Linked DNA regions of Homo sapiens. The protein of the gene in region 1 purifies or fractionates together with the protein of each later gene. This does not show direct contact. Each region holds a gene or a part of one and is shown in the gene's direction. Other genes may lie near its edges.

Region 1 (3,500 bases):
AGGCACATGCCACCATGCCCAGCTAATTTTTATATTAAAGAGGGTGATTTTCTATCATATCCCTTTTCTCTCCTAGAAAATATAATTTGACATCATGCCCAAGAAATATGAAATATGTACTTAGTTGCATTTGTTACCAAGGCAAGTCCCTCAAATGCTCAGGACTCCTTTGTGATTCTTTGTGCTGGTGTTTGAGTTGGCAGGAATACAGCCCTAGGGTCTTCTGGGCCTGGAGGTGACATGTATACCTTTCTAGCTCCCTCTAAGATCCAAAAGCTCTCCAACATCTGTAACTATAGAGACAGCTACATTTTGCTTTGGATATAGGCTGAGACTTTTTCAGTCTCCAGGTCCCCATTTGAGTCCCACACATATTACAGATGTTTCCTGTAGCATTTTATATATTGGATGTAGACCTTTTACAAAAGACAGAATTTCTTGGTGTGTTATGGTAGAGCAAGTGTGGGACTCTGATAGAACTGAGTTCAGGCCCGGCGCGGTAGCTCACGCCTGTAATCTCAGCACTTTGGGAGGCCGAGGCGGGCAGATCAGGAGGTCAGGAGCTCGAGACCATCCTGGCTAACACGGTGAAACTCCGTCTCTACTAAAAAAAAAAAAAATACAAAAAATTAGCCGGGCATGGTGGCGGATGCCTGTAGTCCCAGCTGCTCGGGAGGCTGAAGCAGGAGAATGGCGTGAACCCGGGAGGCGGAGCTTGCAAAGTGAGCCGAGATCGCGCCACTGCACTCTGGGCTGGGAGCCACAGCGAGACTCCGTCTCAAAAAAAAAAAAAAAAAAAAAAAAAAAGAACTGAGTTCAAACTCCTGCTCTGCTACGCACATATGCTATAACCTGCAGGAAAGGATTTAAATGTGCAGAGCTTCAGTTTCCTCATCTAAAAGTAGAGATACTTCCGCTCACTTCCCAAGCTTGAGTGAAGACACCAGGGATGGCAGTGCCCAGGGCAATGATGCTGCCCATTGAGGGTGCTCAATTAATGCATCTGCTTCTATAAAACCCAGGTTCATCCTTAAAAGAAATAAGCTTCTATACATCTATCTAGGTGGTGAAATTTTATTCTCCAGTCAGAGGAGTGGGAATTAGAAAGATCTTGGTGTTACTGAAAGAGTTTAAATTCCAACTCAGCCATTTCTTAGGCATGTCACTTTATCTGTCTCTCTCTCTCTCTCTTTCTCTCTCTCTTTCTTTGCCTTATTCTGTAACCCAGGCTGGAGTTGCAGTGGTGTGATCTTGACTCACTGCAACCTCAACCGCTGCAGGCTCAGTATATCCTCCCACCTAAGCTTCTCAGGTAGCTGGGACTATAGGCATACGCCACCACACCCGACTAATTTTTTTTTGTATTTTTTTGTAGAGACAGGGTTTTGCCATGTTGCCCAGGCTGGTCTCAAACTCCTGGGCTCAAGCAATCCACCTGCCCCAGCCTGCTAAAGTGTTGGGATTACAGGCATGAGCCACCGAGCCTGGCTAGCCATGTCTCTTTTAAAAAGTTACTTAATCCATCCCTACTTCAATTCTCTTACCTGTAAAATGCGGAAATTAATATTTGTTTAGCATTTACTGTTTAGTAGGGACTGTTATTACTGCTACTGAAATGTAATAGTATTGTCTTTTTTTTTTTTTCATTTCTTTCTTTCTTTTTTTTTTTTTTCAAGATATGGTCTTACTCTTTTACCCAGGCTAGAGTGCAATGGCACGATCATAGTTCATTGCAGCCTCAAACTCCTGGGCTCAAGCAATCCTCCTGCCTTGGCTTCCCAAAGTGCTAGGGTTACAGGCCTTACAGCCACTGTGCTCAGCCTAATTTTTTTTAATTTTTAATTTATTTTATTTTATTATTATTATTTTTTAAGATGAAGTCTCGCTTTGTCAACCAGGCTGGAGTGCAGTGGCATGATCTCAGCTCACTGCATCCTCCGCCTCCTGGTTCAAGTGATTCTCCTGTCTCAGCCTCCTGAGTAGCTGGGATTATAGGTCCCCACCACGACACCTGGCTTTATTTATTTATTTATTTATTTTTAGTAGAGATGGGATTTCACCATGTTGGCCAGGCTGGTCTAGAACTCCTACCCTCAAGTGATCCACCCACCTTGGTCTCCCAAAGTGCTGGGATTACAAGCGTGAGCCACTGCACCCCTGGCTGATTTTTTGTAGAGACAGGATATTGCTTTGTTTCCCAGTCTGGTCACAAACTCCTGGGCTCAAGCAATCCTCCTACCTCGATTTCCCAAACTGCTGAGGTTACAGGTGTTAGCTGCTGCACATGGCCTGCCTACTTTCTTTTATTGGCCACATTTTCTGGGAAATCTGGCACACCTGGACTCTGGCATCTAGTGGGAATGAATGTTAGCAGATGTTAGGGGGAGCGATAGTGAGCAAAGTAGAAGAGGGTTCAGAGAGGATATTTGAAGGCCTCCAAAACAAATTGACCTCTTTTTTTTCTTCTTTTTTTTTAATATGGAGCCTTGCTCTGTCACCCAGGCTGGAGTGCAGTGGTGCAATCTCAGCTCACTGCAACCTTCACCTCCTGGGTTCAAGCGATTCTCCTGCCTCAACCTCCTGAGGAGCTGGGATTACAGGTCCCCACCACCATACCCGGCTAATTTTTCAGATTTTTAGTAGAGATGGGGTTTTACCCCATGTTGGCCAGGCTGGTTTCGAACTCCTGACCTCAAGTGATCCGCCCGCCTTGGCCTCCCAAAGTGCTGGGATTACAGGCATGAGCCACACTGCACCCAGCCTGACTCCATTCTTGTGCTTACAGCTTTTAAATCTTGGGGATTTTGGACTGTCTTGGCAAATCCTAAGTATCATCTTCATTCTTCCTTGATGTTTGTGAGTATGAGATCCCTGCCCAAAACTATGCTGGCCCCCCTGGGGATTGGAGTTTGGAAACTGACTTCACTCAGCCCCAGAGTCAAGGTCAGAAGCCCCTCTACCTGGATATTTTAAGTGCCTGCATTCTCTCTGGCCCAGAAACCAGGACGTGGACCACGCCAGAAGTGACCAGCCCCCCACCATCCCCAAGAACATTCCACACATCATCGGCAGCCATTGGAAACCAGCTATATGTCTTTGGGGGCGGAGAGAGAGGTGCCCAGCCCGTGCAGGACACGAAGCTGCATGTGTTTGACGCAAGTATGGACTGGTGGGCACCTTGGGGCTGGTCAGGGCCATCCCAGTTTACACATTACCTAATATAGGAAGCAGAAGTTAGAAAAGGAAAGCCTGACTAAGTGTCTCACTTCTAGACTTCTTTGTTATATCTCTTAGCTGATATCTTTTTCCCACAGCAAAATTGGCATTTAAAAAGGGATAGTGAGGCCTGGCATGGTGGCTCACACCTGTAATCCCAGAGCTTTGGAAGGCTGAGGCAGGTGGACCGCTTAAGGTCAGGAGTTCGAGAACAGCCTGGCCAACATACCTTTTCTCTACTAAAAACACAAAAATTATCCGGGCATGATGGTATGCACCTGTAA
Region 2 (3,500 bases), on another chromosome or scaffold:
ATGGTCTCGATCTCCTGACCTTGTGATCCGTCCGCCTCGGTCTACCAAAGTGCTGGGATTACAGGCATGAGCCACTGCGCCCATCCAATTTTTGTATTTTTTGTAGAGACAGGGTCTCACTCTGTTGCCCAGGCTGGTCTCAAACCCTTGACCTCAAGAGGTCCTCCTGCCCCAGCCTCCCAAAGTGATTACAGGTGTGAGCCACAATGGCCATCCAGTAATAGGAAGTATTTTATGAATAATTCTATTGCTGTGCTCTCATTCTTTTAAATTTTATTTTTATTTATTTTTCTATCCTTCCAGGGAAAAAGAATTAAATCTTTTAATTTCATTCTTTATTATAAAGGTAATACAGTTGAAGTACGTTTTATCTAGAGCATTTGAAATTGGAACTTGATCAGTTAATTCCATTTATTTTTATTTTACTTCTTTTTTTTACTTCTTTTGTTTTTTCTTTTAAAACAATTTTGACAGAGCGAGACTCTGTCTCAAAAAAAAAAAAGGAAAAAGAAAATAAAGCAATCTGAATGCAAAATCTCTAGATTTTTCTGATTTCTTCCCCTAATTTTACTTTTTCCCACAGCAACAGTCTTAGGGACAAATAGAACTGATTCTTATAAGCACAAAGTCAACTGATGAGAGCAGTGCTGCATATGCTAGAGAGAAGCCACAAACCAAAGCTTTTAGAGTGAGTGCATCAGGCAGCAAGTCCGCTAAATGGCTGCATTCGAAAGAGCTTTATTGCCGAGTGCGGTGGCTCACGCCTGTAATCCCAGCACTTTGGGAGGCCGCGGTGGGCGGATCACGAGGTCAGGAGATACAGACTATCCTGGCTAACACGGTGAAACCCCGTCTCTACTAAAATACAAAAAATTAGCTGGATGTGGTGGCACAGGCCTGTAGTCCCAGCTACTTGGGAGGCTGAGGCAGGAGAATCGCTTGAACCCAGGAGGCAGAGGTTGCAGTGAGCCGAGATGGTGCCACTGCACTCCAGCCTTGGCAACAGAGCGAGACTCTGTCTCAAAAAAAAAGAGCTTTATTGTACATGTTCACTGTGGAAAACTGTGAGAATACAGTAAGCAAAAAATAGCAAATCTGCCTGGGTGTGATGACGTGCACCTGTAATCCCAGCTACTTGGGAGGCTGAGGCAGGAGGATCTCTCGAGCCCAGGAGTATGAGTCCAGCCTGGGTAATATAGCCAGACCCTGTTTCTTTTTTTCTCGGGACGGAGTTTTGCTGTGTCGCCCAGGCTGGAGCGCGGTGACGCGATCTCAGCTCACTGCAAGCTCCGCCTCCCGGGTTTACGCCATTCTCCTACCTCAGCCTCCCGAGTAGCTGGGACTACAGGTGCCCGCCACCACGCCCGGCTAATTTTTTGTATTTTTAGTAGAGACGGTTTCACCGTGTTAGCCAAGATAGTCTCGATCTCCTGACCTTGTGATCCTCCTGCCTCCGCCTCCCAAAGTGCTAGGATTACAGACGTGAGCCACCAAGCCCAGCCAGCCAGACCCTGTTTCTGATAAAAAAAAAAAAAAAAAAAAGGAAGAAAAAAGAACAAGTCGGCAATTTCTACATAGGATTATCACTTAAATTTTTGATCAGTTTCTTTTGTTTATGAAAAATATATGTGTGCATATATATAAGTATATATAATTACATATACTAATACATATACTATAAGATGAAATATATATTATAAACTACTCATATGTACATACACAGTGTAACAATGTAGGTGCATGCTTTATATGTTGTGGTCATTCATTAAGTGTTTTTTGTTTTTTTTTTTTGAGATGGAGTTTCATGCTTGTCACCCAGGCTGGAGTGCAATGGCACAACCTCGGATCACTGCAACCTCTGCCTCCTGGGTTCAAGCAATTCTCCTACTTCATCTTCCTGAGTAGCTGGGATTACAGGTGTCTGCCACCAGGCCTGGCTAATTTCTTGTTTTTAGTAGAGACAGGGTTTCACCATGTGGGCCAGGCTGATCACAAACTCCTGACCTCAGGTGATGAGGTCACCTTGGCCCGCCTTGGCCTCCCAAAGTGCTGGGATTACAGGCATGAGCCACTGTGCCCGGCCATTCATTAAGTCTGGATGCTTTTTCATCAATCATTCTTCTACAATATTATTTTTTAATGGCTGTCGGCAATTTGAGATGAGTTAATGCCATTGCTTGTTCCTCAGAGGATGGGTTTATAAAGAGAGAACTAATGATAGGGAGATGTCAATGAAGAATGAGGAGGGCCTACGTTTGTCTTCAAGATTGGAGGGTGCGGGTGAGGGCCACTGAGTACCTTCACGTCGTACTCATGCTCTCTAGGGACAGCCAAGTTCTGATTAAACCCAGGAGTGTGAGGAACGTTCAGAGAGGTTTGTTTTTCATGAAACAGAGTGCCAGAGGTCTCGGTGGAAGGAGGTGGAGACAGAGAGGGAAGGGGTTGGAGATAGGGTTGGTGGAAGAAGAAACCTGCCCGAAGAAATGGTAGTCTGAGGGAGCATGTGTTGCCAGGGTGAATGGAGGACGTGCCTGACATGAGAGAGGACTTCCTCTTTCTGCTGGTGCCAAACTGCTACATGCCTCATGTTCTTTGTGGCAAGGAGGGTTATTTTGTGCCAACTTCTGTGTCAGTATTCTAGTGTATCATTAGCAGCCTGGCTAGTGAGTACTTAGAAATAGAAGCAGTGGGCCAGTCACAGTGGCTCATGCCTGTAATCTCAGCACTTTGGGAGGCCGAGGCGGGTGGATCACCTGAGGTCAGGAGTTGGAGACCAGCCTGGCCAACATGGTGAAACCTCTTCTCTACTAAAAATACAAAAATTAGCCAGGTGTGGTGGCACGTGCCTGTAATCCCAGCTACTCCGGAGACTGAGATGGGAGAATTGCCTGAACCTGGGAAACAGAGGTTGCAATGAGCCATGATCGTGCCGCTGCACTCCAGCCTGGGCAACAGAGCAAGACTCCACCTCAGAAAAAAAAAACAAAACCAACAAAAACCCCACAAAAATTAGCCGGGCATGGCGGCACGCACCTGCAACCCCAGCTACTTGGAGACTGAGGCAGGACAATCGCTTGCACCCAAAAGGCGGAGGCTGCAGTGAGCTGAGATTGTGTCACTGCACTCCAGCCTGGGTGACAGAGTGAGACTCCGTCTCAAAAAAAAGAAAAAGAAATAGAAGCAGTGATCTCTAGGCATTGACATGGGTTCTTCTCTAAGGGGATGTTTTCTTTTTTCTTTTTTTGAGACAAAGTCTTGCTGTGTCACACAGGCGGGAGTGCAGTGGCACCATCTCGGCTCACTGCAATGTCTACTTCCCAGGTTCCAGCGATTCTCCTGCCTCAGCCTCCACAGGCACGTGCGACCACACCCGACTAATTTTTGTATTTTTAGTAGAGATGGGATTTCACCATGTTGGCCAGACTGGTCTTGAACTCCTGACCTCAAGTGACCCACTGGCCTCGGCCTCTAAGGGGACGTTTTCAATATGGCTGCTGGTT
Region 3 (3,500 bases), on another chromosome or scaffold:
TTTTCCAAAGGCAGTTTCATATTCCTTACTGATGGGCCCTTCTTATGTTGCTTTATTGTTAGTGGAAGATGGAACTTCTGTAAAAACACTGGAAACACTCCAGCAAAGAGTGAAGCGTCAAGAGAACCTACTTAAGCGTTGTAAGGAAACAATTCAGTCACATAAGGAACAATGTACACTATTAACTAGTGAAAAAGAAGCTCTGCAAGAACAACTGGATGAAAGACTTCAAGAACTAGAAAAGATAAAGGTAAAAGAGCAGATGAGTTTTGTTCTAATTTAATCTATAAAGTTAGATCCACAGGCTCCACAGCATGGCTTGTACCTCCGGGAGAGGAGAGTGGATGGAAAGGGCATTTTTGTTTGCCCTGGCCTACATAACACCAAACCTTGAGACTTACTGTGTACTTTTTTCCTTCTGCACTGTAACATGTATATAAATTAGATAAATGTTTAGAGTTCTCAAATGAGAAGAAGCTTTATTAGAGATGGAAATGAATTTAAAAATTTTTTTTAGGACCTTCATATGGCCGAGAAGACTAAACTTATCACTCAGTTGCGTGATGCAAAGAACTTAATTGAACAGCTTGAACAAGATAAGGTAAAACAACAAAACCTATGATACTAAAATTTGTCAAGAGGCCCCAACATTTACTTTTGGAAACAGTTGGAAACATTCATGCTTGTTTCTGTTTTCTAAAAATTATTGCAGCTTTTTCCATGAAAAATCTTTAATTTCTAGATTTTTGTAACTACTAGCATTAGTTTTGTGTCATGTAAAACTGATTCTCTGATTTCTTGATCCCAGTCAGCATTATGATTTGTAGACTAGAATAACTGTTGCAAAGGAAGTTTATATTTATAGTACATAACTACTTTACAGAGAAAAGTTATTTATAGTTAAGGCATTATAAATGTGAATGATATCAGTATGTTCTTTCAGATAATATGGAAACAGATTAATCTCTCAGATAAGTTGCCTAACAAATAAATAAGGGGCTGGGCACAGTGGCTCATGCCTTTAATCTCAGCACTTTGGGAGGCTGAGGCGGGAGGATTGCTTGAAGCCAGAAGTTCAAGATCAACCTGGGCAGTAAAGCAAGACCTCCTCTCTACAAAAAAAAAAAAAAATTAGCTGGGTATGTTGGTATATGCCTGTGGTCCCAGCTACTCGGGAGGCTGAGGCAGGAGGATTGCTTGAGCCCAGGAGTTAGAGGCTACAGTGAGCTATGGTCACACTAGTGTACTGCAGCCTGGGTGACAGGGTGAGACCCTGTCTCTTAAAAAAACAACAAACAAAAATAAGTGATAATGTATATATTAGCATAAATAAAAATGTCTACAAATGAATTTTAGAATGTGTAGATGAGATTAGAGGATTGAGGAAGGAATGAGTCTTACCTTTGGTAGTTTGGAGTTGGAGCAGCAGCTAAAGCTACGCAGCAAAGACAACCAGAAAATTCATGGGTAAACAGTTTTGACCTGTCTTTCAGCTCCAAGTTCTTGGGTCCTTTTTCTAAGCAGCTCCCAGTTTGTTCCATAGCATCCACCATTTTCTTTAATATGCCGGGTTATCACTAGAGTATTTTAAGTGGTCACGTAATTAAGAACATGTCAGAGCTGTCCTGCTGTTAAAATGTATTGGCAATCTTTTTCATCCTTTTGATAATACTGCTTTGCTAGATTATACACTTCTTGAGGGCCTACTTAAATTGTTTTTTTTTTTAAATATTATAATGAAGAACTTAAAACATTTACAAAAGAAAAGCTGCTAAAATGAATTTCTTTGAACCCACCACCCCGCTTCAACAGTTAACATCTCATGACTAATCTTGTTTCATCTGTACCTTCTCAACTGTCATTGTCCTACTCACCCAGAATTGTTTTAGAGCAAATCCAAGAAATTTTATCATTTTTTTCCAAAAGTATTTTAATATATCTTTAAAATAAAAGACATTATTTTTACAATACTATAACCACATTATCATGATCACATCTAAAAATTTAATAATTTTAAAATATGACCTGCTATCTAGTCAGTTTCAGATTTTCTCTAGTTTCTCATATATTTTTTGCTCTTTTATGAATCAGGGTCCAAATAAAGTTTTTTCATTGCAATTGGTTGATATGACTCTTAAGATTTCTTTTAATTTACTGGTTTGATTATCTTCTCTCCTTCTCTTTCCACTATATTTTGGTTTTTGAAGAAACTGAAAGCCCATGATTTTGTTTTGAGATTTCATATAGCAGTGCCTCACTTACGTGGTTGTTATCTCTCTGTCTCTCCATTAATATTAGCCATCTGGAAGAGTCATATTCTAAAGCAAGGGTTGGCAAACCCTGTGGAGAGGGTGCTAATCTTAAGACCATGAAATTGTTGTCACAAAGTCTGAACATTTTTTCAAGAGACAAGTGAACCACCTCATTTTTTGTTAGTCCTAAATGACTTTTTTACTGTATACCATTTAGTTGTCTTTTTCCCCTGCCGACCTCCATTTCTAGTGTAGATTATCCAGAAAGAGGGAACAGAAGTAACTAGCAAGTTGGAGGAATGGAGATGCCTTACAAAGTAAGGAATAGTGGTGGTACCAGAGACAGTCACAGGAAGAAAGAGAAGAACCAGGTAGATGTGTCCTGGGATTTTGCTTTATCCAGTGTGGCAGCAGGCACCTTCCATTCTCAAGTGTCTGGGGTTATCCCCATGTTATAGTACAGATCAATACTTGTAGTTTATTGTAGTGCCAAGCCAGGTTCAGAAGACTATATTTTGTTCATTATAAACTGTTTACTAAGACAGATAGCACATTTGTAGAAAGGCTATAAAATAAATCTTTTAAGTAATAATGTTTTAATGCTTTAAGGATTAAACTATTAAAATTTTTAATGTAAAAAATACTGTTATGCTAGGTAATAGGATTAGAGCAGAAAACAGACCTCAGTTTGTGAAGTATTGAAATAATTGTTATGCTGTACTTAGCAAGAAATATCATTTTTTCTGCCTTTTATTTTTTGTTTTTTAATTTTTAATTTTTTTTTGAGACGGAGTCTCACTCTGTCACCCAGGCTGGAGTGCAATGGCGTGATCTCAGCTCACTTCAACCTCTGCCCCCTGGGTTCAAGCAATTCTCCTGCCTCAGCCTCCTGAGTAGCTGGGATTACAGGCATATACCACCATGCCTGGCTAATTTTTGTATTTTTAGTAGAGACAGGGTTTCGCCATGTTGGCCAGGCTGGTCTCGAACTCCTGATCTCAGGTGATCCACCCTCCTTGGCCTCCCAAAGTGCTGGGATTATGGACATGAGTCACCATGCACCATGCCCGGCCTTTTTCTGCCTTTTAAATTAAGTTTTATCTGTGCTGTTGATGATGCAGTTTTGTTATGCAAATGTTTTAGAGTCTTCACTTCTATTCAGGGAATGGTAATCGCAGAGACAAAACGTCAGATGCATGAAACCCTGGAAATGAAAGAAGAAGAAATTGCTCAACTCCGTAGTCGCAT
Region 4 (3,500 bases), on another chromosome or scaffold:
GGTAGGATAGCTTGAGGCCAGGAGTTTGAGGCTGCAGTGTGCTATTATCGTGCCTGTGAATGGCCACTGCACTATAGCCTGGGCAACATAGCAAGACCCCATCTCTAAAAAAAGGTAGTTTATTTATATGATTTCAAGCCTAAAATACATACTGAAGTATAGCTTATCATTATTTGCCTCTAAGTAAGGGAAGAAAAAGCCATTAAAAATATCTTTTAATACGAGTTTATTTCTAAGTCTAACGTATGTCCACAAAGAGAAGAGAATCAATCAGACGTGAGGCCTGCACAACTTTTGTTTCATGCATTTGCTAGGGGAATGGAGGCACTTCAAGTCAGAGGCTGGTGTGGGGACCAGCACACCGTCTAAAGATTCCTCCTGTGTTTGCCTTGGTGGCACCCCTTGCCACATTCCCTGGGTCAGGCAATGCCAGCCCTGGGGGGCCTGTGAGCTGCTGCAGTCAGGTGGTGGGTGCATGTAGCCATCTTCTTGTCTTCCCTCTGCTGTTGCCTCGAATAGGGATTGGCCCCTAGGAGCTGCTCAGACCTGTCTTTGGATGAATGAATGAAGAGTCCTCTAGGTTAGTGATATTCTTTGGCTGTGTCCCCATCCAAATCTCATCTTGAATTGCAGTTCCCATAATCCCCACGTGTGGTGGGAGGGACCAGGTGGAGATAATTGAATCATGGGGCAGTATCCTGTTCTCGTGATAGTGAGTGAGTTCTCACGGGATCTGATGGTTTTACAGGGGGCTTCCCTCTTCGCTGGGCACTCATTCTTCTCCTTCCTGCCATCATGTGAAGAAGGATGTGTTTGCTTCCCCTTCTGACATGATTGTCAGTTTCCTGAGGCCTCCCCAGCCATGCTGAACTGAGTCAATTAAACCTCTTTCCTTTATAAATTACTCAGTCTCAAGTATGTCTTTATTAGCAGTGTGAGAACGGACTAATACAGTCAACTTATTGATCATATGGTTTATATAATCATACATCTATAATTATATAGATTATATAGTCAGATTATATGATTTATATCATCATATAAATAAACTACCTTTTTTAAAGAGATGAGGTCTTGCTATGTTGCCCAGGCTGGAGTGCCGTGGCCATTCACAGACACGATAATCACACACTGCAGCTTGGAACTCCTGGCCTCAAAAATTTCCCAAAGTGTTTCCAAAGAACAGGAACTGAAAAGGTTCTGTGAGTGAGAAGGTTTGGGAAATAGTGAGTTATTCCAGCAGGGCTCTGAAGGGCCACTGATAAACAAGCTCTAATAGGAATAAACTAGGGAAGGATGTAGTTAGCATCTTATTAATGTCTTAATATACTAGCCACAGAGAAATCATTTCCCACCCCTGTCTGTCTCCCTCCCTTCTTTTTACCCAGAGCATCTCTTGGAACTCACTTTTAGATGCTGGATGCATGAATTCCCTAAGAAGAAACAGCTCCTAAATTGAAGTATGCATTAGAATAATACAGAGATTGTGTTAATGCAAGGATTTGAATCTTCAAAGCAGACATCCATAGGATCTATAGATCTTACCTAATGTCAAACTTTACTAATGATTCAATAACAAAAACACTAGGCAGAGAGATGCATCCCATGTTGGCTGGGCTGTTCTCAAACTCCTGGCCTCAAGTGATCCACCCACCTCAGCCTCCCAAGGTTCTGCGATTACAGGTGTGAGCCACTGTGCCCAGCTATTCTGTGCTTTTAGATAGGGGTTCCCAGGCTTCTTTCCACTAGTAAGTACTATTTGCATGTTTACAAGGAGATCTGGTCCTCGCCCAATCCAGTCATGGGCAGAGTTCAGTTCTTTGTGACTGTAGGACTGAGATCCTCATATTCACGTTGGCTGTCAGCAGAGGGCCTTTTTAGCTTCTCAGGGCAACCACATGGCTCGGCTTGTGGCCCCCTCTTCTGTCTGCAACTCCAGCAACAATACATTGAATCTCTCACCTTTGAATCTTTTCTTCTCCCGTCTCCAGGGAGAAGGACTCTTCACCTCTAGGGACTCGTGATTGCAGTGGGTCCAACTAGATAATCCAGCATGATCTCTGCTTACCTCCAGGCCCTTAGATCTTTGACTTCATTGCATATGCAAAATCCCTTTTGCTGTGTAAGGCAACACGTACACAGGTTCTGGTGCCTGTGTCAGGGCCTGGGCAGGGGGCCATGATTCCGCTAACCACAAGCGTGACATGGGGCCATGATTCTGCCGACAAGTGCTGTCCCCTGTGTCCGGTGCCTCCGCGCTCTATCTATTATTGGGTTGGAAAGCCTTAGTGACCACGGTGGAGAGTACCCAGAGGTGAGCAGAGCTGGCTGGCTTTCCAGCTGGCTGGATGTCTGCGCCCACATAGTACTGATTAACTAGCCTCTTGGTGAGATTACTAGCAAATAAAATTCTTAAGATTTTTGCTGCTGCTGCACTTTCATCTTATATCTGTGTAGTTGCTTATTTATTTTTGTATTTTTATTTTTTATTTTTGAGACGGAGTCTTGCTCTGTCACCCAGGCTGGAGTGCAGTGGCACAATCTCAGCTCTCTGCAAACTCTGTCTCCCAGGTTCAAGTGATTCTCTTGCTTCAGCCTCTTGAGTAGCTGGGATTACAGATGTGTGCCACCACACCCAGCTAATTTTTTTATATTTTTGGTAGAGACAAGGTTTCACCATGTTGGCCATGCTGGTCTCAAACTCCTGACCTCAAGTGATCCGCCTGCCTTGGCCTCCCAAAGTGCTGGGATTACAGGTGTGAGCCAATGCACGCGGCCTGCTTATTTAAAGCTATGTGGAGAAGCTTCTATTTTCCCTACTGAATTTTACAACATTAGATTTACCCATTGCTTGATTCTGTCCAGAATATTTGTACATTGATTCTGTCATCCAATATATTAATTATCTTTTTAGGCTTCTTGACATCTTCAGATCTAATGAACTTGCCTCCTCTCTTTTTGCCCCTCTCATCAATAGAAGCAATGGGCAGGACACAGCTGAAGGCCGAAATCAGTGCAGTGTCCATAGGGCCTTGTGCCAGCCTGCCAGCAAAGTGGTGTCACAGAGCCAATTGTCCAGACACCTAGCAAGCCACCTAATTGTACTTGCACCTGGATCATGGTTCCTCTTCTTGATTGCTTATAAGTTTCAGATTTTATCGTAAGTGTTCAATGTCTGTAACACCTCCCTGATCTGCAGTTTATTGACTGTTACCACCAAGGCTTGGAAATCAGTGTGACATGACTGAGTGTTACCAAACCCACGCTGACCCCCAAGGGCCCACCACTTCCGTTCCAGACGCTCCTGCACTTGCTTCATAATGCCCTCAACACCCTGCTGAGAACCAACAGCCAACATTTTACCTCATTCGGAGGCATTATCTTCTTTCTCTCTGCAAATGGGTTTTGAGCTTCCTTACACCAGCTCTATGCTCCTGGACTTCACAGGCACCATTCGCTGGAGTCAGGCAAATTCACTGCAACATTCCCTGAATATTTTT
Region 5 (3,035 bases), on another chromosome or scaffold:
GATTTCTTCTCTTTGACCCTCTTCAGTGTTTGGGGCAAGAGTGGACCCTGGTTTTTATTTCTTTGATTGCATTGTTTACTGCACTAGGAAAAATATAGAGATACAGGGAAACTACAGACAAATTTAAGGAAAAATAGGTCAAAAAAGAAAGCACACACCTTAAGAGTGGGAGGAATATTTTTATTAAAAACAAAACTTGGACCTGTAGTTTTTTTTTTTCTTTTTTATTTTTAAGAAGGCACCTTTCAGAAGCCATGTTTCTTCCAACAGATGTTGGAAACCCCATCGAGCAAGTAAAAGTTGCATTCTCCATCCCTCAGATGGCTGTATGTAGTCAAAGAAACCCTGTAACATGGTAAGGTTGCTGTTTTTTTTTTTTTTTTCTTTTTGAGATGGAGTCTTGCTCTGTAGCCCAGGCTGGAGTGCAATGGTGTGATCTCAGCTCACTGCAACCTCCGCCTCCTTGGTTCAAGTGATTCTCCTGCCTCAGCCTCCTGAGTAGCTGGGATTACAGGCTCCCACCACCACGCCCGGGTAATTTTTGTATTTTTAGTAGAGACGGGGTTTTGCCATGTTGGCCAGGCTGGTCTTGAACTCCTGACCTCAAGCGATCCGCCCGCCTTGGCCTCCCAAAGTGTTGGGATTACAGGCATGAGCCACCGCACCCAGCCTGAAGGTGACTCTTAAGAATGAGATTTATGAACTCCATACAGTTGTAGATTTCAGTTTTTAAATAGTCTGGGGTTTTATTTTTCTTTTCAAAATATCTAATAGACTTAGCAATCAATTTAGAACAAATATTTGGCCCTTAATATATCTTTAGTGAGGGAAGTAGCTTTTATTTCCTGCTTGTTTAGGTTTTCTGTTGGTACATAAAAACAAAATTGCTGTCTCAGACTGAATCTACTTGAATCTAGGAAGGCACATCTCATCCCTATTGTGGTTTTTAGGGACACTTTTCTCTTTCCCAGAGATGAGAGGACCAATTCAGGACAGAAGAGCCCTCGTGAATACCAACGTGCTAGCTCAGGTTCCCTTCTTTCCTCCATCAGAGCTATTGGTAGGGTTTTAAGGTCGTGTGTGCATCATGCTTCCAATGTCAAGAGATTTCCTCAAACAGCCTGTTTACTAGATGAATTTTCCAGCTGGTGAAATACATGAGCTTTGTTGTTTTCCTGGTCTTCCAATAGCCTGTCATTATTGTTAGATATTATGGCACCTGTTGTTGAATGTAGGTTCCCTTACAGCCCTGGTCTAGATGATCCTAGATGGGGTGAGACATATGCAAGCCATTGGTATGTGCATAAGCAGTTGCAATGAACCTTAGGCTGACTTGGTAGTAGGCATTTGTCTTTCTGTTCATGCATTGAATAAACATTTTTAAGAACCATCTATGTGCCAGGCTTTGTGCTAGGCACTGACAGTAGAGAGATGAAGACATAGTCCTTGCACTTAAGGAATTCATACTCCAGATGTCTGGAGTTAAGAAATACATATTTCAGCCAGGCATGGTGGCTCACACCTAGAATCCCAGCACTTTCAGAAGCTGAGGCAGAATTGCTTGAGGCCAAGAGTTTAAGACTAGCCTGGTCAACATAGCCAGACCCCATCTCTATAAAAAAATGTAAAAATTAGTCAAGTCTTGTGGCTCGCACTTGTAGACACAATTACTCAGGATGCTGAGGCAAGAGGATTTTGCTTGGGCCTAGGAGTTCAAGGCTGTAGTGAGCTATGACTTTGCCACTGTACTCTAGCCCAGGTAACAGGGCAACATCCCCAGCTCAGAAAACCAAAACTACACATTTCATTATAATTGTTTTTTTTTGTAATTTTATGTATTTTATGCATTGAAAAACATTATTTAAGAATTGGTTCATAGGTTTCAGCAGACTGCCAAAGGCACAAACAAGCAGCTCTCCTTTACTGAGGTACTGAAACAGATCCTACTGCGTAAGTGCTGTGTGTGATAGGGCTATTGGCTAGGAGCTGAGAGAACAAAGCATGAAGTGCCTAACCCAGCTTAGCGGTGTAGAGGTGGGGTCAGCAAATAAGGGAGATCTTCCTGGAGAAGGCATATACCTAAGCTGATTTAGGAGAGACCACTTTTGGCTAGGTTTATTGTACTACTTGATTTTCAAGTAATTGGGCTTATTTATTCTAGAGAAAAAGTCTTCAGTCTCTTGCTTCTGCCTGCAAAGCAAGGCAGAGTCAGCAACATGGGCAGTCTCCCCACTGGAGAACGCTGAGTCATGCATGGGCTTCTCCAAGTTTCCATCAGATGGGATCCAGTGTTGAATCCAGTGCAGGACTGGAGTCTAGCTGGCAAAGGGTAAATGCCCCCAAAGCCTTCCTGCCATATGGTTTCCACGAAGGCCTGAGAGTCAGCTGTACAACTGTCTTGTCTTGGCCATGTCCCTGTTTGGTCCCTGCCTTGTTCTCTTCCCTTTCTCAATTTCCAAGCTCCACCCACTCCTAAAAACACCAGTCATTCTGAAGTAAAAAATGGACAATAAACATGAATATTCAAGATTCAAAGCCACTTCATATGAAGGTTCTTTTGCACCTCTGTCCTTATTAGGGAAGGAGGACCAATGTTAATCCAAACATCTGGAAAATTAATATTCAGTTCAGGTGGTTCTGACACCCACTAGTGGTAGCATTTTATCCCATTTCATGAAAGGCATTAAAGGTAAGACTATGGTGGAGAGTGTTGATTATAAAGATAGTAAAAGTCAAGCATGAAATGTGGAATTAGTAGTTGAGTTATAGCATCCAGGTTTTAGTACTATCAGAGAGGTGGAAAGGACAAAGGAAAGGTTGAATTCTGAAAATCGGCATGAGGTTGTGATTCACCTTGGGCAGTTTGAGGAACTCGTCCTCTCTGAGACATAATGTCATACACTAGCCTAGCTCCTGCATTTTGAGACAACTTTCCTAGTACAATTGATCACTTCCCTGGAGGTGCAGCACATCCCTTACTCCAGGTTAGTTCCTCCCTGGGAAATCCTCCCTGGGAAATTTTTGTGTAGTCTGAA
Region 6 (4,274 bases), on another chromosome or scaffold:
ACAGACAGCCCTGACCTTGGTTTCCAGAGTCTCAGGGTGCGGGTGCCCTGCGTGTGCCCACGAGCACCCCTATGTCCGCAGTTCGTGTGTGTCTGGCGTGTGTCATTGTCATTCCCCCCTTCCCTGCCCACGCCCCCGCACCGCTCTCTGCCAGCACCGCAGCCCCCTCCAGGCTTCCTCCCTCCCTCCCCTTCATTCCTGCAGTGGCTGCCCCCCTTGCCACCCTCTCCTCTCCCCTGCCCCCTCCCCATTTCCGTCCTCCCCCCCACCCCCGCCCACGGCTGGTCTCCCTTCACCGGACCCAGCTCTCTGATGGATTCTCTTTGCGCAAATCTGTGCGTCATCGCCCCCCACCCCCGGAACCTCTAGCTGTCCAAGCCCCCAGCCCCAACCTCTCTGGCAGGAGATACGGTCGAAGGGGCTGGTGGCAGAGAGGGGCTATCTCTGACGTTGCAGGTCCCCCTCCCATCGCGTTCAAACCTTCCCTTTAAGCGGTGGAGAGAGCTGGAGTTGAGTCACCCCCCCCCCACCTGCGCAACCCCCTCCCCACCTGCTCTGGTCTCGCCCTCCAAACGTCCTTGGGGGAGGGGAGCGGCAGGAGGGAAAGCGACTGGGGGAGTGTGGGAAGAGATGGGCCGAAGGGGGCACAGCGGGGGGCCTTGACACAAGCGGCAGTCAGGGGACAGAAGGACAGACACACCTTTTTCTCCAGACACAGCACGGATCGTGAAACAGACACGACCCAGAGGCACACACATCCTCATTCTTTCCCTTTTCTCTTCCGACTCGGACCCTTCCCGATGGGATTACCAAAACCGCAAGATCCACCCATCTGCCCCTGTCAGGGGGCTGCCACCCGCACTGCCGATTCGCGGACAGCGCCCGCAGGCGTGCAGATCTGTCCCTCTGCACTCAGGTTCACGCCGTCCTTGGGCGCGTGGTCTCGGGGTGGGGAACCCGGCCCCCTGGTCGGCTCTTGAATCTTTATCCTTCCCCTCCCCAGTATTGAGCTCCCACTGGTGCCCAGTCAGACGCTGGGACTACCCTTTTTCTATTCCACTCAGCAACGCGGGCTCCATCCAGCAGCTCCAAGTTGCTCTGCAACCCACCCTCCCGCCTTCCAGCGCCTCTGCATCCACCCTTCCATTCATTCTCCCATTCATTCATTCATCCTTTTCTCCTCGTCCCTCCTTCATTCATTCATAGCCCCCCGCCCTGCCCGCTTCAGCATTTCATTCATTCATTCATTCATTCATTTCCCGGAGCTCCGCTAGCGCACACCCCTTCAGCCGAAGGCCCCAGCGCGCAGGCGCAGGCCGGGAGAGGCAGGCACCCTCCAATCGTCGGGCGTCCTTCCTCCTCCGGGCGGCCGCCCGCTTCCCCATGAATGAACATTGACGTCAATGGGGCGGGGCGCGCCCACGTGACCCCGCGCGCTCCCCTTTATAAGGCGGTGGAGGCGCGGGCGCTGTCCAGCGTGCTGAAGCCGGAGCGAGCTAGCCGCCCGGAGCCGCGCCGACCCAGCTGAGCCCAGCCCACGGGACGCCAGACCTCGACCGTCGCTCCTACCCCGGCCACCGCTCGGAGCCGAGGCGGACGCGTCCCGATCTTCCCCTGTCCCCACCCTGCCCCGACCCTCCTCTCCACCTCTCGCGTCGTGACACCAGCTGGTAAATACTCCGCTGTTCGTCCCTCAAACCCTCGGCAGCCAGCCGTGGGCGTGAGGGAGGGTTCTCTCTCCTCTCGATGGGGGTGTTGCAAACACAGCGGGGAGCCCCCTGGTAAGGGTCCCCGGTAAACGGGGGAGTCGCAGCTTTTTCTCTTGCTGCTGAAGTCGCCCACGCACCATCCGGGGAGTCCTACGGGGAGGGAGCAGAGATTTTTTTTTCCCCCATATTGCTGCTGCTTAGTACGTGGGCGATGGCAGTGAGATGGCTCAGGGAAGGGGCCGAGGAGGCCCTGGGTAAGCGAGGGCTTCGGGGGTTATTTTCCCATTTACACGGCTCCAGAGATCGGCACAACATCTTCCTCCTTTGCTCCTAAACGTTCCTCTTCTGGGTAAGGTTTGGGGGATCAGGGAAGCCCCGGGTTTCCTGCTGAAAGGTGGGGGAAGGGAACGTAGACCTAGAGAGGGGAATTCTTACAGAAATCCTCTTTTTTTGGTCCCTTCTATTTTTCAGTCTCCGGCAGCCTCTTGGTCATGAAAGCCCTCAGATTGTCGGCTTCCGCCCTCTTCTGCCTTCTGCTGATCAACGGGTTAGGGGCAGCACCCCCTGGTCGCCCTGAGGCGCAGCCTCCTCCTCTCAGCTCTGAGCATAAAGAGCCGGTAGCCGGGGACGCAGTGCCCGGGCCAAAGGATGGCAGCGCCCCAGAGGTCCGAGGCGCTCGGAATTCCGAGCCGCAGGACGAGGGAGAGCTTTTCCAGGGCGTGGATCCCCGGGCGCTGGCCGCGGTGCTGCTGCAGGCACTCGACCGTCCCGCCTCACCCCCGGCACCAAGCGGCTCCCAGCAGGGGCCGGAGGAAGAAGCAGCTGAAGCTCTGCTGACCGAGACCGTGCGCAGCCAGACCCACAGCCTCCCGGCGCCGGAGAGCCCGGAGCCCGCGGCTCCGCCTCGCCCTCAGACTCCGGAGAATGGGCCCGAGGCGAGCGATCCCTCCGAGGAGCTCGAGGCGCTAGCGTCCCTGCTCCAGGAACTGCGAGATTTCAGTCCAAGTAGCGCCAAGCGCCAGCAGGAGACGGCGGCAGCAGAGACGGAAACCCGCACGCACACGCTGACCCGAGTGAATCTGGAGAGCCCGGGGCCAGAGCGCGTATGGCGCGCTTCCTGGGGAGAGTTCCAGGCGCGTGTCCCGGAGCGCGCGCCCCTGCCGCCCCCGGCCCCCTCTCAATTCCAGGCGCGTATGCCCGACAGCGGGCCCCTTCCCGAAACCCACAAGTTCGGGGAAGGAGTGTCCTCCCCCAAAACACACCTAGGCGAGGCATTGGCACCCCTGTCCAAGGCGTACCAAGGCGTGGCCGCCCCGTTCCCCAAGGCGCGCCGGCCGGAGAGCGCACTCCTGGGCGGCTCCGAGGCGGGCGAGCGCCTTCTCCAGCAAGGGCTGGCGCAGGTGGAGGCCGGGCGGCGGCAGGCGGAGGCCACGCGGCAGGCCGCGGCGCAGGAAGAGCGGCTGGCCGACCTCGCCTCGGACCTGCTGCTCCAGTATTTGCTGCAGGGCGGGGCCCGGCAGCGCGGCCTCGGGGGTCGGGGGCTGCAGGAGGCGGCGGAGGAGCGAGAGAGTGCAAGGGAGGAGGAGGAGGCGGAGCAGGAGAGACGCGGCGGGGAGGAGAGGGTGGGGGAAGAGGATGAGGAGGCGGCCGAGGCGGAGGCAGAGGCGGAGGAGGCGGAGAGGGCGCGGCAGAACGCGCTCCTGTTCGCGGAGGAGGAGGACGGGGAAGCCGGCGCCGAGGACAAGCGCTCCCAGGAGGAGACGCCGGGCCACCGGCGGAAGGAGGCCGAGGGGACAGAGGAGGGCGGGGAGGAGGAGGACGACGAGGAGATGGATCCGCAGACGATCGACAGCCTCATTGAGCTGTCCACCAAACTCCACCTGCCAGCGGACGACGTGGTCAGCATCATCGAGGAGGTGGAGGAGAAGCGGAAGCGGAAGAAGAACGCCCCTCCCGAGCCCGTGCCGCCCCCCCGTGCCGCCCCCGCCCCCACCCACGTCCGCTCCCCGCAGCCCCCGCCCCCCGCCCCCGCTCCCGCACGAGACGAGCTGCCGGACTGGAACGAGGTGCTCCCGCCCTGGGATCGGGAGGAGGACGAGGTGTACCCGCCAGGGCCGTACCACCCTTTCCCCAACTACATCCGGCCGCGGACACTGCAGCCGCCCTCGGCCTTGCGCCGCCGCCACTACCACCACGCCTTGCCGCCTTCGCGCCACTATCCCGGCCGGGAGGCCCAGGCGCGGCGCGCGCAGGAGGAGGCGGAGGCGGAGGAGCGCCGGCTGCAGGAGCAGGAGGAGCTGGAGAATTACATCGAGCACGTGCTGCTCCGGCGCCCGTGACTGCCCTTCCCGGTCCCGCCCCCGCGCGCCCCCGCCGCGCGCGCGCGCCGGCGCCCCCCTCCGTGTTGCCCGCTCCCCCTCGGTGTTTGCATGCGCCCCGGCCCTGCCCCTTGGCCCTGCCCCTGTCCCCGGGCTGCGTCGGGACCTGCCAGACCCCCCTCCCGGGTCCTGAGCCCGAACTCCCAGAGCTCACCCGCGGGTGACCGGGGGCCAGCCCAGGAGGGCG
Region 7 (3,500 bases), on another chromosome or scaffold:
AGGCTGGAGTACAGTGGTGCGATCTGGGCTCACTGCAAGCTCGGCCTCCCAGGTTTATGCCATTCTCCTGCCTCAGCCTCATGAGTAGCTGGGACAACAGGCACCCGGCACCACGCCCAGCTAATTTTTTGTCTTTTTAGTAGAGACAGGGTTTCACCATGTTAGCCAGGATGGCCTCGATCTTCCTGACCTCGTTATTCGCCCACCTCGACCTCCCAAAGTGCTGGGATTACAGGCATGAGCCACCGCGCCCAGCTTCTACCAGTCTTGATACCTCCAATAATAGCTCTCTTGTGCTCACCTGCAAGTTCAGGTTCAGGGAACAGATGCCTGGGAGTCCATCTTTCATGCAAATGACTTTCTTCCAGTGGTTGGGAAGATGGCAAGAATGGAACAGGAGAGCCGTGGATTCAGGCTCGTCTGAGTTCTAGTCTCAATCCCACCATTTCCCACCCGAGACCGTGGGTCAGCTCACAAATTCATACGTACTGAATAGGTGCTTAAAATGTGCCAGGCATTATGCTAGATGATGGGGAAATCATGATAAATCAGAAAGGCACAGCCAGGCACAGTGACTCACTCCTGTAATCCCAGCACTTTGGGAGGCCAAGGTGGGTGGATCACTTGGAGTTTGAGACCATCCTGGCAACATGGCAAAACCCCATCTCTACAAAAAATTTAAAAAATTAGCTGGGCGTAGTGGGATGCGGCTATAGTCTCAGTTACTCAGGAGGCTGAGGTGGGAGAATCACCTGAGACTGGGAGGCGGGGGCTTCAGTGAGCCGTGATCGCATTACTGTATTTCAGCCTGGGTGACAGAGTTGGACCCTGACTCAGAACAGAACAGAACAGAACAGAACAGAACAGAACAGAACAGAACAGAACAGAACAGTACAGAAAACAGGGAGAAGGAGGGGAAGGGGGAGGGGAAGGGGGAGGGGGAGAGAGAGGAGGAGAGGAGGAGAGAGGGACACATCCCTGGCTTGTCTTCATGGGGCTTATATTCTAGCAAGAGAAATGCACATGATTATTTAATCTTGGTTGTGATAAATGTATAAAGGAACAGTAAGTGGCATGAAGGTAAAGGATAGGGCATTAGGGAAAGTTTCTCCAAAAAAAAAAAAATGACATTTCAGCTGCTTAGTAAAGGCTGTGCAGGCATTAGCATTAGTGAAATTGCAGGAAGAGGAGAGGAAGGAAGGAGAATGTGCAAAGGCCAGCCTGGCACGGCAGCTCACGCCTGTAATCCCAGCACTTTGGGAGGAAGTGCTTGGATTGAGGCACCGAAGCAGGAAGATCACTTGAACTCAGGAGTTTGAGACCAGCCTGGGCAGCACAGTGAGACCCCATTTCTACCAAAAAAAAAAAAAAAAAAATTAGCCAGGCAGGATGGTGCACACCTGTAGTCCCAGCTAGTCAGAAGGCTGATGTGGGAGGATTACTGGATCCCAGGAGTTCAAGGTTGCAGTGAGCCATGAGCATGCCAATGCACTCCAGCCTGGGCAACAGAATGAGACCTTGTCTCAAAAACAAAACAAACAAACAGGTCAGGTGCAGTGGTTCATGCCTGTAATCTCAGCACTTTACGAGGCCGAGACGGGTGGATCACCTGAGGTCAGGAGTTCAAGACCACCCTGGCCAACATGGTGAAACCCCATCTCTATTAAAAATACACAAATTAGCTACATGTGGTGGTGGGTGCCTGTAATCCCAGGTACTTAGGAGGCTGAGGCAGGAGAATCTCTTGAACCCAGGAGGCAGAGGTTGCAGTGAGCCAAGATTGCACCACTGTACTCCAGCCTGGGCAACAGAGCGAGAATCCTCTCAAAACAAAACAAACAAACAAAGAATATGCAAAGGCCCTGAGGCAGAAAGGAGGCTGCACATCGGGCTGGAGAGGACAGGCAAGAGGGGGGCACAGAGGAGCTATAGGACAAGGATGGAGAATGGGGGGAGGCCTGGTCTCACTGGCCTTGTGCGGCTTTGTGGACATGTTGAGGACTTAGGATTCTGAGGTTTTTTTCTGTTTTGTTTTTGTTTTTTTTTGAGATGGAGTCTCGCTCTGTCGCACAGGCTGGAGTGCAGAGGCGTGATCTCGGCTCACTGCAACCTCTGCCTCCCAGGTTCAAGCGATTCTCCTGCCTCAGCCTCCCAGGTAGCTGAGACTACAGGCATGTACTACCAAACCCAGTTAATTTTTGTATTTTTAGTAGAGATGGGGTTTCACCATGCCGCTCAGGCTGGTCTTGAACTCCTGGCCTCAAGCAATCTGCCCTCCTTGGCCTCCCAAAGTGCTGAGATTACAAGTGTGAGCCACCTCGCCCGGCCAAGCCACGGAAGATTTCAAATAAGGGAGTGACGTGCTCTGATTTGCATTTTTCACAGTCACTCTGATTGCTGGGCAGAGAGAATGGAGGGCAGGGTGGTGAGAGTGAATCAGGTGACCCGCCAGGAAAAGGTGCACGTACTCATCGGTGCCAGAGATGATTGGGGCTTTGAGATGGAGGCAAATGGACACATTTCCGAACTAATTGAGCAGGCACGTCTACAGGATTTGGGGGTGAGGGAGGGGAGAAACCCATGGCTGACTCCTGTAATTTCTTCAGGCAGGGTACTTGGGTTGGGAGGTCTGTTTGGAGTTGTCTGGGGCATGGTGTGGGGTGTCGGCAGGATACAGTGGAGATGAGGGGGAAGTTAGTGAATTGGTGGGGCTGGAGCTCAGAGCCAGACCATCACAGGAGATGGAGGCCTGCGAGTCTTCAGGATCTGTCACTGACCAAAGTCTTGCTCACGGATGAGCCTATCATCTGTGGAAGAAAGTGTGGAATGAGATGAGAACAGGCCTGGGTGGAGGCCAGGGAATCAGCAGAGACAGCCAAGAAGGCCAGAGGCTAGGAGGCAAACCCCACAGTGTGCCCCTCCTCCCCAGGAGCCAAGACCAGAGATGGTTTCAAGAGAGGGGGCCAGGCACAATGGCTCCCGCCTGTGATCACAGCACTTTAGGAGGCTGAGGCTAAAGGATGGCTTGAAACCAGGAGTTTAAGACCAGCCTAGTTAACAAAGTGAGATCCCATCTCTACAAAACAAAAAATGAACTGGGTGTAGTGGTGCATGCCTGCAGTCCCAGCTACTTGGGAGGCTGAGGCAGGAGGATTGTTTGAGCCCAGGAGATTGAGGCTGCAGTGCACTGTGATCATGCCACTGCCACAGCAAGACTATCTTAAAAAAAAAAAAAAAAGATCAGAGAGGGGCACGACATCAAATCCTCCACTTTCTTGAGCTTCCAGTTGCTCTGATGATGATCAAGGCTGTGAAACTCTCCTTTGGCAAATGCATGAGGGGTGACTGTTGTGTCTCCGAGCCAGGCCCTGGGACCCAACTCTGGGCAGGTAGCAGCTCCCTGTGTATACCAGATGTGATAGTAAAAAACTGACACTGGGCCGGGCGCGGTGGCTCACGCCTGTAATCCCAGCACTTTGGGAGGCCGAGGCGGGTGGATC

Evidence for each region.
Region 2: the proteins of RABEPK (region 1) and DHTKD1 fractionate together in Homo sapiens (co-fractionation; one large-scale study listed by BioGRID). This does not show direct contact.
Region 3: the proteins of RABEPK (region 1) and GOLGA4 purify together in Homo sapiens (affinity purification with mass spectrometry; one large-scale study listed by BioGRID and IntAct). This does not show direct contact.
Region 4: the proteins of RABEPK (region 1) and CCR6 purify together in Homo sapiens (co-immunoprecipitation; one large-scale study listed by IntAct). This does not show direct contact.
Region 5: the proteins of RABEPK (region 1) and GMEB1 purify together in Homo sapiens (affinity purification with mass spectrometry; one large-scale study listed by BioGRID and IntAct). This does not show direct contact.
Region 6: the proteins of RABEPK (region 1) and VGF purify together in Homo sapiens (co-immunoprecipitation; one large-scale study listed by IntAct). This does not show direct contact.
Region 7: the proteins of RABEPK (region 1) and TRIOBP purify together in Homo sapiens (affinity purification with mass spectrometry; one large-scale study listed by BioGRID and IntAct). This does not show direct contact.

Annotation. Positions count from the first base shown.
Region 1 is NC_000009.12:125,217,542-125,221,041, forward strand, and holds part of RABEPK (rab9 effector protein with kelch motifs), read left to right. Parts: intron 1-2,997; coding exon 2,998-3,159; intron 3,160-3,500. UniProt on the Homo sapiens protein: Rab9 effector required for endosome to trans-Golgi network (TGN) transport.
Region 2 is NC_000010.11:12,075,454-12,078,953, forward strand, and holds part of DHTKD1 (2-oxoadipate dehydrogenase complex component E1), read left to right. Parts: intron 1-3,500. UniProt on the Homo sapiens protein: 2-oxoadipate dehydrogenase (E1a) component of the 2-oxoadipate dehydrogenase complex (OADHC). Participates in the first step, rate limiting for the overall conversion of 2-oxoadipate (alpha-ketoadipate) to glutaryl-CoA and CO(2) catalyzed by the whole OADHC.
Region 3 is NC_000003.12:37,298,771-37,302,270, forward strand, and holds part of GOLGA4 (golgin subfamily A member 4), read left to right. Parts: intron 1-62; coding exon 63-250; intron 251-517; coding exon 518-601; intron 602-3,414; coding exon 3,415-3,500. UniProt on the Homo sapiens protein: Involved in vesicular trafficking at the Golgi apparatus level. May play a role in delivery of transport vesicles containing GPI-linked proteins from the trans-Golgi network through its interaction with MACF1. Involved in endosome-to-Golgi trafficking.
Region 4 is NC_000006.12:167,126,096-167,129,595, forward strand, and holds part of CCR6 (C-C chemokine receptor type 6), read left to right. Parts: intron 1-209; exon of another isoform or gene 210-550; intron 551-1,053; exon of another isoform or gene 1,054-1,232; intron 1,233-3,500. UniProt on the Homo sapiens protein: Receptor for the C-C type chemokine CCL20. Binds to CCL20 and subsequently transduces a signal by increasing the intracellular calcium ion levels.
Region 5 is NC_000001.11:28,716,819-28,719,853, forward strand, and holds the end of GMEB1 (glucocorticoid modulatory element-binding protein 1), read left to right. Parts: 3' UTR 1-2,535; downstream 2,536-3,035. UniProt on the Homo sapiens protein: Trans-acting factor that binds to glucocorticoid modulatory elements (GME) present in the TAT (tyrosine aminotransferase) promoter and increases sensitivity to low concentrations of glucocorticoids. Also binds to the transferrin receptor promoter.
Region 6 is NC_000007.14:101,162,770-101,167,043, reverse strand, and holds the start of VGF (neurosecretory protein VGF precursor), read left to right. Parts: upstream 1-1,474; 5' UTR 1,475-1,670; exon of another isoform or gene 1,671-2,058; intron 2,059-2,180; 5' UTR 2,181-2,200; coding exon 2,201-4,048; 3' UTR 4,049-4,274.
Region 7 is NC_000022.11:37,703,548-37,707,047, forward strand, and holds part of TRIOBP (TRIO and F-actin-binding protein), read left to right. Parts: intron 1-3,500.